2 linked regions of the Homo sapiens genome follow. The protein of the gene in region 1 purifies or fractionates together with the protein of each later gene. This does not show direct contact. Each region holds a gene or a part of one and is shown on either strand. Other genes may lie near its edges.

Region 1 (7,028 bases):
GTCTCAAAAAAAGAAAAAAAAACCAACGGTCTTCTGAGGAAGATAAAAGAATCTAGAGTCTCTACAATGTGTTATCCACAAGGTCTGGTGTTCAATCAAAAACCACTACTCATACAAAGAAACATGTAAATGTGATCCATAGTCAGGAAAAAAGGTAGTAAATAGAAACTGAACCCAAGATGGTTCAAATGTTGGACTTAGCAGATGAAGACTGTAAAACAGCTATTATAAATATTTCAAAGAGGTAAAGAAAAATACATTCAAAGAATTAAAGGAAAATATACTCTTAATGAGTGAGCAGAGAATCTAATAGAGAACTGAGAACTATACTGGGAACCAAATGCAAATTCTAGAGCTGAAAACTTCCCTCAGGGAGTTTAACAGTAGATTGTCAGTGGTGAAGTCAAATCAACAGAGACTATGCAATCTGAAAAATGCATAAAAAAATGGAAGAAAAATAAATATAGCCTCAGGGACTCTGGGACAAAATCAAATGGTCTAATATACATGTAATTGGAGGCCAAGAAGGTAAAGAGAGCCAGAATGTGGCCAAAAAAACTCTGAAGAAATAATAGTAAAACAAAAACAAAACAGAAAACTCCCCAAATTTGATGAAAAACACCCACCTACCAATCTTAGAAACTCAGTAAATCCTAAATAGAATAAAAATGAAGAGAATCACATCTTGGCACATCATATTCTAACTGCTGAAAACCAAAGAAAAGAGAAACTCTTGAAAGCAGCCAGGGGGTAAAAAGGGCACATTAGGTACAGAGATTAATAAGAGTCAGAATGAGTGCTAACATCTCATGACACACAATGGAGGCCAGAAGAGAATGGACCAGCATCTTTAAAGTGTTGAAAAAAATCTCATTTCTAACAAGTATGTCCCTTGGACAAATCACTTTACTACCCTTAGATGCTCTCATATATGAAATGATAACAATACTTGCCACACATTGTTGCTGTAAGTCTCCATGAGATGAAATGTGTAAAATTCTCCAGAATGGTGAAGTACTATTCAAATGGTTAGGTATCATTATTGTACACATACAGGCACAAAGTCACATAGCTCCAAGTACTCAAAAGAATAGAAAGCATGGCAAACCAGCATCAACTTTATTTGATCTTGAAATAGAAAATACTTTTGCTTAATTCAGCCTGTCAGCCAAGGAAGAAATCTGTCTTCTAGCAGGAGGAGTGACATCTTGTGAGAAGGAAATTCAGCATAAAAGATTAAGTACAATCCCACTCAATAATTAAGAACAACTCTTTATAGTGTAACTACTTTATTTGAAATGCTAAAAATTCCCAAAATATCAGATATATTCATAAGAAGAAAACTACATTATTCATGCTACCACTTACTTCCAAATGTATCTATAATTAAGGGCTGACTTTATAAGTTATTGTTTTAAATAGCCTATTTCCCTTAAAATTACTCAAGATGAGTAGGTTTTTTTAAAGTGGCCATCTGTTCAGGTTGTGATGTGAGCGCCTCCCTCTATTTCCTGCTTGATTGGCGAGGCCTTATTTTTATGTGTGACTGGATGGAGTCTATACTGACAGTCTCCTATTCTCTAACTGCACCCCTGTGGGCTACAATATAGGATTATACTAGCGGTGGCAAGGCAATTTTGCCACAGTAATGCTTCTATCTGATTATGCATATAAATGTAATACCATTAGCCAAAGGTAGCTTTGAAGAAAATCTCTGTCCTGCTTAAGCAGTGTATAATAACTTTTGTTAAACTTGATGATCTTCAGAATCGCCTGGAGAGAGAGCTTTTTCAAAATATAGATTCCTGGGCTCCATCGCAACATAAGCTTCCAGTAGGTCTGAAGCCTAGAAGTATGTATTTTAAGAATTTCCTCAGGTAATTCTGGTGATCAGCTAAGTCTCATCTAAAATAGACAGCAGTCAGATCACTCATTCTCATTCTCTCTTCCTTTCTCTCCCCCTTTCTCTATTTCTATCTCACTAGATTCTTTGAAAAGAAAGAGCTTATTCTAATGAGAAATTCCTATTACTTTTTTGCTTCCTATAATTTAAACTGAAAATTGGCACAGTGGCCTTGACACAAACCTTAAAACAACAAAATGCTAGCTTACCTGGAACATCTCATTAATGCCTTCTCCAGTTTGTGCTGAAGTTTCAAAGTACAGGAACCCTTTGCTTTCAGCCCAAAGACGTCCTTCACTTTCATCTACACAGCGATGTTTGGTACAATCAATCTGAAATAGAAGGGGCGGGGGACAGAGAGAAGATTACAATCTTGTCCTACTAGAATGGACCCAGTGAGGGTCTCTGTCAATCCTTTACTAAGGCAAAGCTATTCTTAGTAAATGCCTGCACTAGTGTGTAAAATTACCAGGACCAAAGGGACAGAAACAAAACTTAATATTGAATGTAGACTGATATTCTATGGCAACAGGACTAGTGCCTGCTGCTGCAATGTCCCACCTGATCCCTTGGGAAAACAGCTGTTACTCAGTTCTGTGAAAGTTGGCTTCATGACATCTGCCATACCCTTGGGGCCATAGTCTGCTTTTCACACCTTTCCATAGTCCACATCACCTAATTAATGCCCCTACTCCAGTCGGGTCAGAGTCTGATTATTAGGAACCATTGCTCCCACTCAGTCACCAACATCCTTCCCCATGTATGGCACCAGAAAAAAAAAAATGTATACAAATTTTGATATAGCAGGTTTTAGGCTGCTGTGTTGTTTTGTTTTTGTCTTAGGGACATTATGTTTTGAAAGGTTATTGATTTCCATATTACACAATAAGGAATTTTTCTTTTCTTTTTGTTTCCCAACACTCAAAGCTCCACTCTTTCCCTAGAAATCTGAACACACCATTTCCAGAGGGGTTACCTTGTTGGCACAAACTACAAATATAATATTTTCCATGTTTCCATGAGGTCCAAGCTCTTGCTTCATTTCTGCCAGCCACGCATCAAGGGCGTCAAAGGAGTCTTTCTGCCCAACATCATAGACCAGTATCACACCCTGTGTGTCCTTGTAAAACTCATTTCGAACCTTCAAATAAAAGGACAGATACACAAAACGTAGTTTTTGTGATGTTATAAGAATGTATCTCACAGTCATTAACCTGGCAAAGTGTGTTCTTTTGTGTATTCTTAGTGTTTGCTATTGTATCTGTTTCTACTGGTCATTAGAGGGTTTTTTATAGAATCAAAGTAATGTCATTCTAAAAATGTATTAGCATAGAAGGACTTACAATGGAAAACAACAGCCTCCTGCCCCACCCCGTCCCACCTCCAGTTCCACTCCCTAGAGGCAATCAGTCTTTAATTATAGTAGACCTTAAAAGAACATCAATTATATAAAGTTCTTCTTAGGAAGAATTAGGAAGGTGAGTGAGCAATTCAAAAGAACTTAAGGCCAAAATGACATAAGTGTCAGCAATGGGTACAGCCATTTATAAATCACATCCCAAAGCTGGCTTCCCCCAGGGTGCTAGGCAGAGCTTCCCTGACTCTCGGGTCTGCACACCAACTTTAGAACTCCAAACTCAGAGCCTCAGTGTGATACAATGGAAAAGAGCACAGGCTCTGGAGTCAGACAGATCTGGGTTCACACTTACTTACTAGTTTTGTGATCTTGGGCAAGTCACTTAACCTCTCTGCGTCTCAGTTTCCTCATCTGTAAAATGGGGATAATACTACTTACTTCACAGGGTTATTATGATGGTTAAATGAGATAATGCAGGCAAAGTACTTAGCATGGTGCCTGAAAAACAATGTCTATTTAACACCTTCCCCTTCCTTCCTTGCATTCATTCTCTGGGCTTCATTCCAAATGTGGGAAGAGGCAGCATGAAATATGGGCATACTCAAACATTAGGGCCAGAGAGAAGTTAAGGAGCAGCATTGACACATGGGGTTTCCGGGACAAAGTTCCAGAAAGAATCCTGACAGAGCCCATATATTATATGTTCTTTTCACAAAATTCCCAAATGTACTCAGACCCACACAAGCTATGTAGTAAGAAATGAAAACATGTTATACACATCGGGTAGGGTTTCTGGGCATAGGCAGATATCTGGACCAAGGATATTAAGTGCTCCTATTTGTTTACAGAAACCTAAGAAGCTATCCCCTAAAGTTAAAACCAACAAAATCAGAAAGAACTGAAGATGATGAAGCCCACCAGTCCTTTCCCTCAGTACTCATGGTCCTTGGCCCTTCTACAGCAGTTAACGACGGGCTCTCTCTTCTTTTCTAAAACTCTCACTGCCTTGGCTCCCATACATCACATTCCCTAGGCTCTTAAATTCTCTTTCACCAACTCCCCTTCTCTCTATTGCTCCCACTCCAGCTTACCACCAAAATCCCCCAAATCCTGTCCTATGCCTTCTTCCTTTCGTTTTGAATCCTTCCTCCCAAATCAGCAACATCAACCACTTGTACAGTTTCAACTGTGAGAATCTCCAAGATGAGCCCTCTCCTCTGAGGTTCCAGACCTGCATTTCTAATTAGCACAACATTCTTCCAGCTGAATGTCCTGTTGGAATCTCAAATTCAATATGCACACAGGAAACCCCTCAACTTCTTCCTTCTTAAACTATTCTCCAAAGTTCCAACTTTCTCAAATGATGTTAAAAGTTTCTGATCAGTCCTCCACCAACCTTCCCAGTCTTATCCTCCCACTAGCTCCTGACCTTCAAACTGGGGAATCTCTCATTCCCCAAACTTGCCCAAGCCTTCCTAACTCCATCTGGAAACAGATACCTCTTTATCTTTAATTGTTCAAGCCCTGGCTATAATGCTGTATCTTTCATGCAGCTTTCTCTGTTCCATTCCTCACCATCCAGCCCCCTACTCCTGCAAAACAGAATGTAATCTCTATGTCCCCTGGAGTACCATACTGTTTTGTACTTTCATAGTGCCATCACTTCCTGCCCAGTTTTACAGTTAGTAGCATATCCAGCTGTCTTCCCTCCTACACTAGAAGAAATGTGAAGACATGCATCATCTTCATGTATCCTCCCTTGTGTCACCCACAGGGCCTAGCAGATGCAGGCACACCTCACTTTATTGCACCTATGTAAGGCACATAGGCACACCTCACTTTATTGCACAGTATGTACATATTGTGTTTTTTTACAAAGTGAAGATCTGTGGCAACCCTAAGTCAAGCAAGTCTATTGATGCCATTTTTCCACAGTGTGTGTTCACTTTATGTGTGTGTCACATTTTGGTAACACTTATAATACTTCAAACTTTTCATCATTATTATGTCTGTTACGATCATCTGTGATCAGTGATATCTGTTACTATTTTAAGTGTTTTGGGATACCATGAACATATAAGGTCATTTAAGACAGCAAACTTAATAAATGTTGTCTATATTCTGACTGTTCCACCAAATGGCTGTTGCCCCATCTCTCTCCCACTCCTGGAGCCTTCCTCTTCCCTGAGACAAAACAATATTGAAAGTAGGCCAATTAATAACAATACAACGGCCTCTAAGTGTTCAAGTAAAAGGAAGAGTCATGTATCTCTCATTTTAAATCAAAACCTTTAAATGATTAAGCTTAGTGAGGAAGGCATTTCAAAAACAGATAGGCCAAAAGCTGGGCCTTTTGTACCAAACAGCTAGCCAAGTTATGAATGCAAAGGAAAACTTCTTGAATGAAATTAAAAATGCTAATCTAGTGAACACATGAATGCTAAGAAAGTGAGACAGCATATTGCTGATATGGAGAAAGCGTTAGTGGTCTGGATAGAAGTCCAAACCAGCCACAACCTTCTCTTAAGCCAAAACCTAATGCACAGCAAGTCTCTAACTCTCTTCATTTCCATGAAGGCTGAGAGAGATGAGGAAGCTGCAGAGGAAAAGTCAGAAGCTAGCAGTTGTTGGTTCATGAGGTTTAGGGAAAGAAGCCATCTTCGTAACATAAAAGGGCAACATGAAGCAGCACATGCTGATGTAGTGCTGCAAGTTATTCAAAATATCTAGCTAAGATCATTGATGAAGGTGGCTAATCAAAGCAACAGATTTTCAATGCAGATGAAACAGGCTTGGAATAGATAGATCTAATGGAAGAAGATGATATCTAGGACTTTCAAGGCTAGAGAGGAAAAGTCGATGCCTGGCTTCAAAAGCTTCAAAGGACAGGCTGACTCTCTTGTTACGGGCTGACAGAGCTGTTACGGGCTATATGAGCTGATGCTCATTTGCCATAATGAAAATCCTAGGGCCCTTAAGAATTATGCTAAATCTACTCTGCCTGTGCTCTATAAATGGAACAGCAAGGTCTGGATGACAGCAGATCTGTTTAAGCATAGTTTACTGAATATTTTAAGCCCACTACTGAGACCTACTACTCAGAAAAAAGGATTCCTTTCAAAATATTACTGCTCATTCACAATGCACCTAATTACCCAAGAGTTCTGATGGAGAAATACGAAGAGATTAAAGCTGTTTTTATTATGCCTGCTAACACAACATCCATTCTGCAACCCATGGATCAAGGAATAATTTTGACTTTGAAGTCTTACTGTTTAAAAAATACATTTTGCAAGGCTACAGCTGCCATAGTGATTACTCTAGGCAAAGCAAATTGAAAACCTTGTAGAAAGCATTCGCCATTCTAGATGCCATTAAGAACATTCGTGATTCAGGGGAGAGGTCAAAGTATCAACCTTAACAAGAGTTTGGAAGTTGATTCCAACCCTTACAGATAACTCTGTGGGAGTTCAAGACATCAGTGGAGGAAGTAACTGCAGATGTGGTGGAAATAGGAAGAGAACTAGAATTAGAAGTAGGGCCTGAAGATGTGACTGAATTACTGCAGTCTCACGATAAAAAATAAATAAGGAGTTGCTTCATATCAATGAGCAAAGAAAGTGGTTTCTTGAGATGGAATCTACTCCTAGTGAAGATGCTATGAACATTCTTGAAATGACAAGCAAGAATTTAGAGTATTACATAAACTTAGTTGATAAGGCAGCAGCAGAGTTTAACTGAATTGACTCCAATTTTGAATGAAGTTCT
Region 2 (7,028 bases), on another chromosome or scaffold:
TTACCCTGTTCATTTCTATGATTTTGTCAGGTTAAGAATGCTCTAATTTTATAAATGAAATCATACAATATTTAACCTTTTTGGGGAGAAGGGATAGGGTCTCACTCTGTTGCCCAGGTTAAGAATGCAGTGGTGTGCTATCAGCTCACTGCAACCTCCACCTCCCGGGTTCAAGCAATCCTCCTGCCTCAGCCTCCTAAGTAGCTGGGACTATAAGTGTGTGCTGCCACACCCAGCTAATTTTTGTAATTTTTGTAGGCAGGGTTTCACCATGTTGCCCAAGCTGGTCTCAAACTCCAGGCCTCAAGTGATCTACGGGTCTCGGCCTCCCAAAGTGCTGGGATTACAGGTGTGAACCACCACACCCAACAATATTTAACATGTAGAGGTTGGCCTTTTTTCACTCGGCATAATTATCTGAAGTCATCTAGGTTATTGTGTGTATCAACAGTTTGTTTCTTTTTATTGCCAAGTAGTATTCAGTGGTTTTGATCCACCGTAGTTTGTTGTCCTTTGCCCGTTAAAGATCACCTGAGCTTTTAGTTCTTAGCTGTTACAAATAAAGCTGCTATAAACATTCACGTACAAATTTCATATAAACATAAGTTTCATTTCTCTGGGATAAGTGCCTAGGAGTGCGGTTGCTGGGTCATATGGCAGCTGCATATGTAGTTTTGTAACAAACTGCCAAACATTTTCTAGAGTGATTGTACCATTTTCCATCCCTACTAGCATCATATAAATTTTGCTCACATCCTCACCAACATTTGATGTTGTCATTATATTTCATCCTTTCTGATAGGAATGTGTGATAACTCATTCTGGTTTTAATTTGCATTTTCCTAGTGGCTCATGATATTGAACATTTTTCAATATCATGAGAACATTGACCAGCCAGGCTCCTTTAGGGATATTTTTGAAGAATTCTTATTTGGGTGAGAAGTTGCCTCCTAAATATTTGTTATGGTACCATTAAACTCTAAAATTTCATTCTTTTTTTTTTTTTTGAGATGGAGTCTCACTCTGTTGCCCAGGCTGGAGTGCAATGGCGTGATCTCGGCTCATTGCAACCTCTGCCTCCCAGGTTCACGCAATTCTCCTGTGTCAGTCTTCTGAGTAGCTAAGATTACAGGAACCTACCACCATGCCTGGCTAATTTTTTGTATTTTTAGTAGAGACGGGGTTTCACCATGTTGATCAGGCTGGTCTCGAACTCCTGACCTCAGGTGATCCACCCACCTCGGCCTCCCAAAGTGCTGGGATTATAGGCATGAGCCCCCGTGCTTGACCAAATTTTATTATCCTAATAGTGAAAGAGACGAATTAAAAATACTTCATCTCCATTAGCACTTTACCTGCATACTGAAAGCATGTATAAAAATACCTTGATCCGCTTAAACATTTGAAATATTTTATATCCTCATCAAAGCTACATTAACTTTAAATTCATGATAGTATATTGTAGTCTGTAATATTTAAATTTGTCATAGTTTATAATCTATTAATTTAATGGACATACACAAGTGTTCTAATTTTTGAAATAATTTTTTACTTCTATAATTTTTATCTAAAGTATTGATAATATTTTTTAAATGTGCCAAATGTATTTTTGCCTTGCAATTCCAGCTTCCTTGCGCTCAGAACTCAACCATCAACATGCAGCTGCAATTGATTTGTTACGGCATAATCATCATCAAGAATTGGCAGCTGCTAAAATGGAATTAGAGAGAAGCATAGACATCAGCAGAAGACAGGTAAGTAAGAGTATTCTGTACTCTGATGATTTCTTAAATTTGAATAGATTGAATGTTCATAATTTCCTGAAAATTATTTTGTAATAACTTATTTTCACTAGTTATCACATTCTATTTATATTGAAGAGCTTTATTTGATTCAGTTATTTATTTATTTGAGACAGGGTCTCGCTTTGTCACTGAGGCTGGAGTGGAGTGGCACAATCACAGAAGGGAGCTTAACTGTCAGATAACTGCTAGAGCAGCACTAAACTAAGTCTGCTTTGTAAGCCATGTGATGTGTGTGTTTTAGGAGGGCCTCCTTAGATGCACTTTCTCTTTAGATTATAGGCAGTGGTGCCACAATTATTCTTCAAAATCATGTAAAACTTACTGAGGATGTAAGAGCACTGTGTTCTAATCTCAACTAATCCACTGATTATAAATCATCTTTGGGTATTGGTTTCCTCATCTGTAAAATGAGAGAGATGTCCTTTGACCTTTTGGGTTCTTTGTAATCTGACATTATTGAAGCTATATCCATATACACACTATATGTGTGGAAAGAGAACAGGCCTTGAGGTTTTCTCATTTCAGCAGTTTGCTTTTGAAGAAGCAATGTCAGAATGATTACATTTGACATTCCAGTGTGTCATTTTCTTTCCCGCAGATAAACACAGAAATCAAATATGTAGAAAACTTCTAAAAATGACTTTTTTTTTTTAACAGAGTAAGGAGCACATATGTAGAATTACAGATCTACAAGAGGAATTAAGACACAGAGAGCATCACATCTCTGAATTGGATAAGGAGGTTCAGCACCTTCATGAGAATATAAGTGCCCTAACCAAAGAACTGGAATTTAAGGGGAAAGAAATTCTCAGAATACGAAGTGAATCTAACCAACAGATAAGGTATGCCATTAAGTACAACAGAAGGAATATGCAGTGTCATCTGAAAAACTGTTGTGCTGATATTTAGTAATCTATGCTAATTTTGTGACTAGACTGGCTCTCTAGTAAAATATTGAAGACCTCTTTTTACTTTATTTGATGACTATGTTATAATCTAGAACACAGATGAAATGTTTATATCTTGAATGATGTAACATGTATTCATTCACTTTGGAAATTGTATATAATTAACTGAATTCTTTTTAAAATGTTATTTGAAAAAGCATTAAAGGAGACAACTTTAACAAAGCCAGAAGCTTATAGCAGAAAGTAAGTAGCTTAATTTAGGCTGTTTACATAAATTTTCTATATATTATACCAAAAACCATTTCAAATCTGGTAGAATAATAGAAAGTTTTGAAAGCTTGACTTCAGAATAACATTTTCTTAACTAAAAATAAATCAAACAGGTTGCATGAACAAGATTTAAACAAGAGACTTGAAAAAGAGTTGGATGTCATGACAGCAGACCACCTCAGAGAGAAAAATATCATGCGGGCAGATTTTAATAAGACTAACGAGCTACTCAAGGAAATAAATGCCGCTTTACAAGTGTCGTAAGTCATATTATATAAGAAAATTCATATGTGGATAATAAATTTAGGAGCACTGTGTTTAACCTCAGATTAGCTGTTATTTTGACTCTAATAAAAAGGATACTTTAAAAAGAAAATTTTAGTGCTGTGTTACAGATGGTAATTGCAGTGCTATATGTTCTTTAATTAGGATGAGGCAGTTGAATGATGATGTTTTATCAACTAAGACTGCACCAGTTCTGCTAGAACAGTAATCTAAAGAATGTTCCTTAGGATCATGAACTATCATGCCATGGTGAAAACTGAAAATATGGCTATATATAATGTTAAGTAAAAAGAATATATAGTGAACAATAGGAATACTATGATCCTATATACACACTAATAATGTATATTTTACCAAAATATCAAAATATCTTAACAAATACCAAATTTTAATGGTAATGGTTCCCTCAAGAGAATGGATTAGGAGGTACTGGAGATGAGAAAGAGCAATTCTTTCTTTTTATTTTATATACTCCACTTACATATTGTTTAAATTCCTACAAGAAGCATCTAATTGTCTTATGATTTTAAAAATCAATAAAGGGGAAAACATTACAAATAAAGTTACCGCTCATACATAGTAACTACAGTATTGTTAAAACCAAAGTTTCTAATTCTTATTTAATGTTCTTTGGAAACATTTAATAACCCTTCCTTTCCTAGATGCTTGTAAACTGATGTAGCTAATGCAGTTTGTACTCAGTCCATCTCTGTGGCCTAAACCCTGGTCCAACATAAGTTATTTCAGAATTAATCTACTCTAAGCTGCTGCTAGTAGTTTATTCACCTTTAGTCTCTCCTCTTCCAATCAAATATATATATATCCACATACTTCAGTAAAGTCACAATTAGTGACTAATCCCATTATCCTTCATGTCAAAGTCAAATGTAAACTTAACAGCTCCAATGTGCCTTATTCTACATCATCCAACAGCAACCCTTATTTCTTATTCTGTCTTTTTATCAGCCTAGTGGACCTTCTTGGTTTCCTGTGTTGTCCTCTACAGTCTAGAATAACCTCCTGTGTTGTTGCCGTTTTAAGTATTGTCCTCAAATCTAAAAATTATCTTCTTTTATTTGATTTATGTGACCAATTCAATCTTTCGGTAAAGATTGTTACATACATAGGCAACACCACAACACACACATACAGACGCACACATGCACACACATGTATTCACTTAAGCCACAGCAGAAAACAGGTCCCCAGTTGTTATTTACTTGAGTATGCTGTGAGATGAGGTGCTCTTTCTGATGGGCATATTCAGAATCGTTACATTAGTTAAGCACTCAGTGAATGTTTCATGAATGAATTTTATGATTCTTTCTCCATCATATTTACCACTTTTTGAAGTTGCCTTTGAAATGGTGAGGAAACTTGTGTTACTTCCCTGGTCACTCTGAGTTTGGTGTTTGCTGTTATTAGAGGTGATTTTTAAATCCTTTTGGGCCAAGTATGAGCTCAGGTATCTGCCTTGTATAACAGCTCATAACCCCATACTTTTGCAGAAATGATTTACAATAGACCTCAATTCCTTGGCTGTCCTTTTTCCTGGCCTCAGTGGTACTCCTCAGACAGAGACTGAAATCTTGGCATCCCCCACTTCATGCTCCGAAAAAACATAGTCACAGAAAGAATAACGTCAGTCTGTCTGTGTGTCCTGTCTCCTTAGGAATGTTAATTTACAAAGAGTAAAGGTTGTGTCCTTGTTTTTCCTTTATTCTGTTGCATATGGTTTTGCACATTATGAATCTTCAGTAGGTAGCAAATAACTTAGTTTTTGATTTTATGATCATTTTTAATAATCAAAGAATTAGTATTTGCTTTTAAGTAAACTACCTGCTTTTCTAGACTCTCCTTTCATTTTAATGCTTCCACTTGGGTCCATGCTAACCAATTATGTTTCTTTTTTCACCAGAAACTTACTGCCACCAGGTAATTACCCCCTAGCTTTAGGTGTTTACTCCTTTAGTTAAAAACAAACACACACCAAATTTATATTTGACCAACACTGTCCAATAGATTGTGATAATGAAAATGTTTTGTATCTGCTTTGTCCAGGTTAGTAGCTTCTAGCTAAAAATGGCTCTTGAATGCTTGAACGGTGATTAGCATAACTGAGGAGCTGAATTTATAAATTTCATTTAATTTTAATTAATTTAAATGTAAATAGCCATATGCAGACTAATGGCTACAATGTTGGAAAACATAGTTTTAGACAATTGGTTGTTTCTGTTTCATATCCTTAAATGCAGCCTGCTTGGATCTGCTGAATGGTTTGGATTTAGACAGGTAGTGAGCAGGGAGAGTTGGTTCCAACTTATGGAGCTGTGGGAAACAGTATCTGTACTGTTCCCAAGGACTAGGGGATTCTATTGAAGTTCCTAATCAGCTGCACCCTGGCTTTAAAACTTTGAAATCAGAAGAGTCCTGTGGATTCCTGGAAGGCAGTGGTGCTGGGGGCTGAAGGGACATGGTGCAGCCTGACAGGCCACAGCCTGCCACTGAGGAAGCTTGGGGGCAGAGGCAGCTTCTTGCTTCTGCTCCTGCCCCAAATCCTGTTGAACTCCCTTCCTGGAGAGAGAAGGGTGGGGCAACACATGTAAAGGATGGGAAATACCCTCTAAGTCTGTAAGTATTGTAGAAGTGGTGATGAGTTCTATATTGCTTATGGATGATGATTATTACAAATCCGCTTTGGTGCTGGAAGTTAAAGTTTTAGATTTTTCAGAGAGTTCTATAGAAATTTTATTTTTCAGTGATATAGTAGTAAAAACTTTATATCTAATAAAAATGTCCTGATTCTGGTTTCTTTTAGAAACAAATGAGAAAATGGGCTGTTTGATTTTTTTTTATCTGAATGATTTACTCTGTAAGTAAAGAAAGTTCAAGCTAAATGAAAACATTCTCTACAACTTGAGGTCATGGCCGATTTTTAATATGCAAAAAGATGGTTCTGAGATTACTGATTGTTTAGGTTTATTTCACAAAAGATGATTTCTTCTTGAGAGAAATGTTGAGTTTCTATACTTAGATTTTAAATAGATCAGTAATCCCCAATTGAAAAGAAGCACTCCGCCACACCTGAATTACTAATTTTTTGTTTAAGTTTTGAGTCCTTTCATCTATAATACCCAAATAACTTTTGTTTTTGTTGTCATTTGATTTTTAATTTACCATTCAGGTATGGTTGTAAGCTTTGTGAGGTACGGAAGTAGTCTTGTCACAAATCAGAGTCTGTGCGTAATTTATGGGAAAAGAAAGGTTCAGCGTTAAAGTGCTTCAATTGCTATATTTCCTTTATTTAAGAGTTTAGAAAATGATGATATAGGAGTTTTTTCATCTTTATAAAATCAAAGTTATAGGATATATGTGTGCATAATATACTATTGTTTGGTTATGAAACAATAGTATACCATTTTTGGTTCTAAAATTCACTGATTTTATTTTTTTATCCTTTTCTTTTTCTTAACAAGACTATAACTTGGAAACTTTGTATACAGCTTTTTAGGCATTTGTAATTTAGGCCTGTTGTCCATGAATCACAGACATTGACCTGTATATTGTCAGAGCCAAAGAAAGCAGGGCATGCATGCCTGGTGAGAATCCATCAGTGGCCCTAATTAGTAATTTTATATGTTCTACTTCTCCTTTCTCCTTTTTTCCCCCTTTCTCTTCTCTCTTCTATTACTTTTAATGGAAATCTGTAAAATTTGAGTAAAAGGCTACACTTGTGTGGTATTCTCAAGGCGGCATTTCC

The links. Proteins that work in one complex are often made in the same cells at the same time.
Region 2: the proteins of DNAJC27 (region 1) and FAM184A purify together in Homo sapiens (affinity purification with mass spectrometry; 2 studies listed by BioGRID and IntAct, with this or other methods). This does not show direct contact.

What each region holds. Positions count from the first base shown.
Region 1 is NC_000002.12:24,954,931-24,961,958, forward strand, and holds part of DNAJC27 (dnaJ homolog subfamily C member 27), read right to left. Parts: intron 3,045-7,028; coding exon 2,880-3,044; intron 2,236-2,879; coding exon 2,113-2,235; intron 1,208-2,112; coding exon of another isoform or gene 1,157-1,207; exon of another isoform or gene 1,101-1,156; intron 1-1,100. UniProt on the Homo sapiens protein: GTPase which can activate the MEK/ERK pathway and induce cell transformation when overexpressed. May act as a nuclear scaffold for MAPK1, probably by association with MAPK1 nuclear export signal leading to enhanced ERK1/ERK2 signaling.
Region 2 is NC_000006.12:118,970,643-118,977,670, reverse strand, and holds part of FAM184A (protein FAM184A), read left to right. Parts: intron 1-1,626; coding exon 1,627-1,754; intron 1,755-2,462; coding exon 2,463-2,647; intron 2,648-3,096; coding exon 3,097-3,243; intron 3,244-7,028.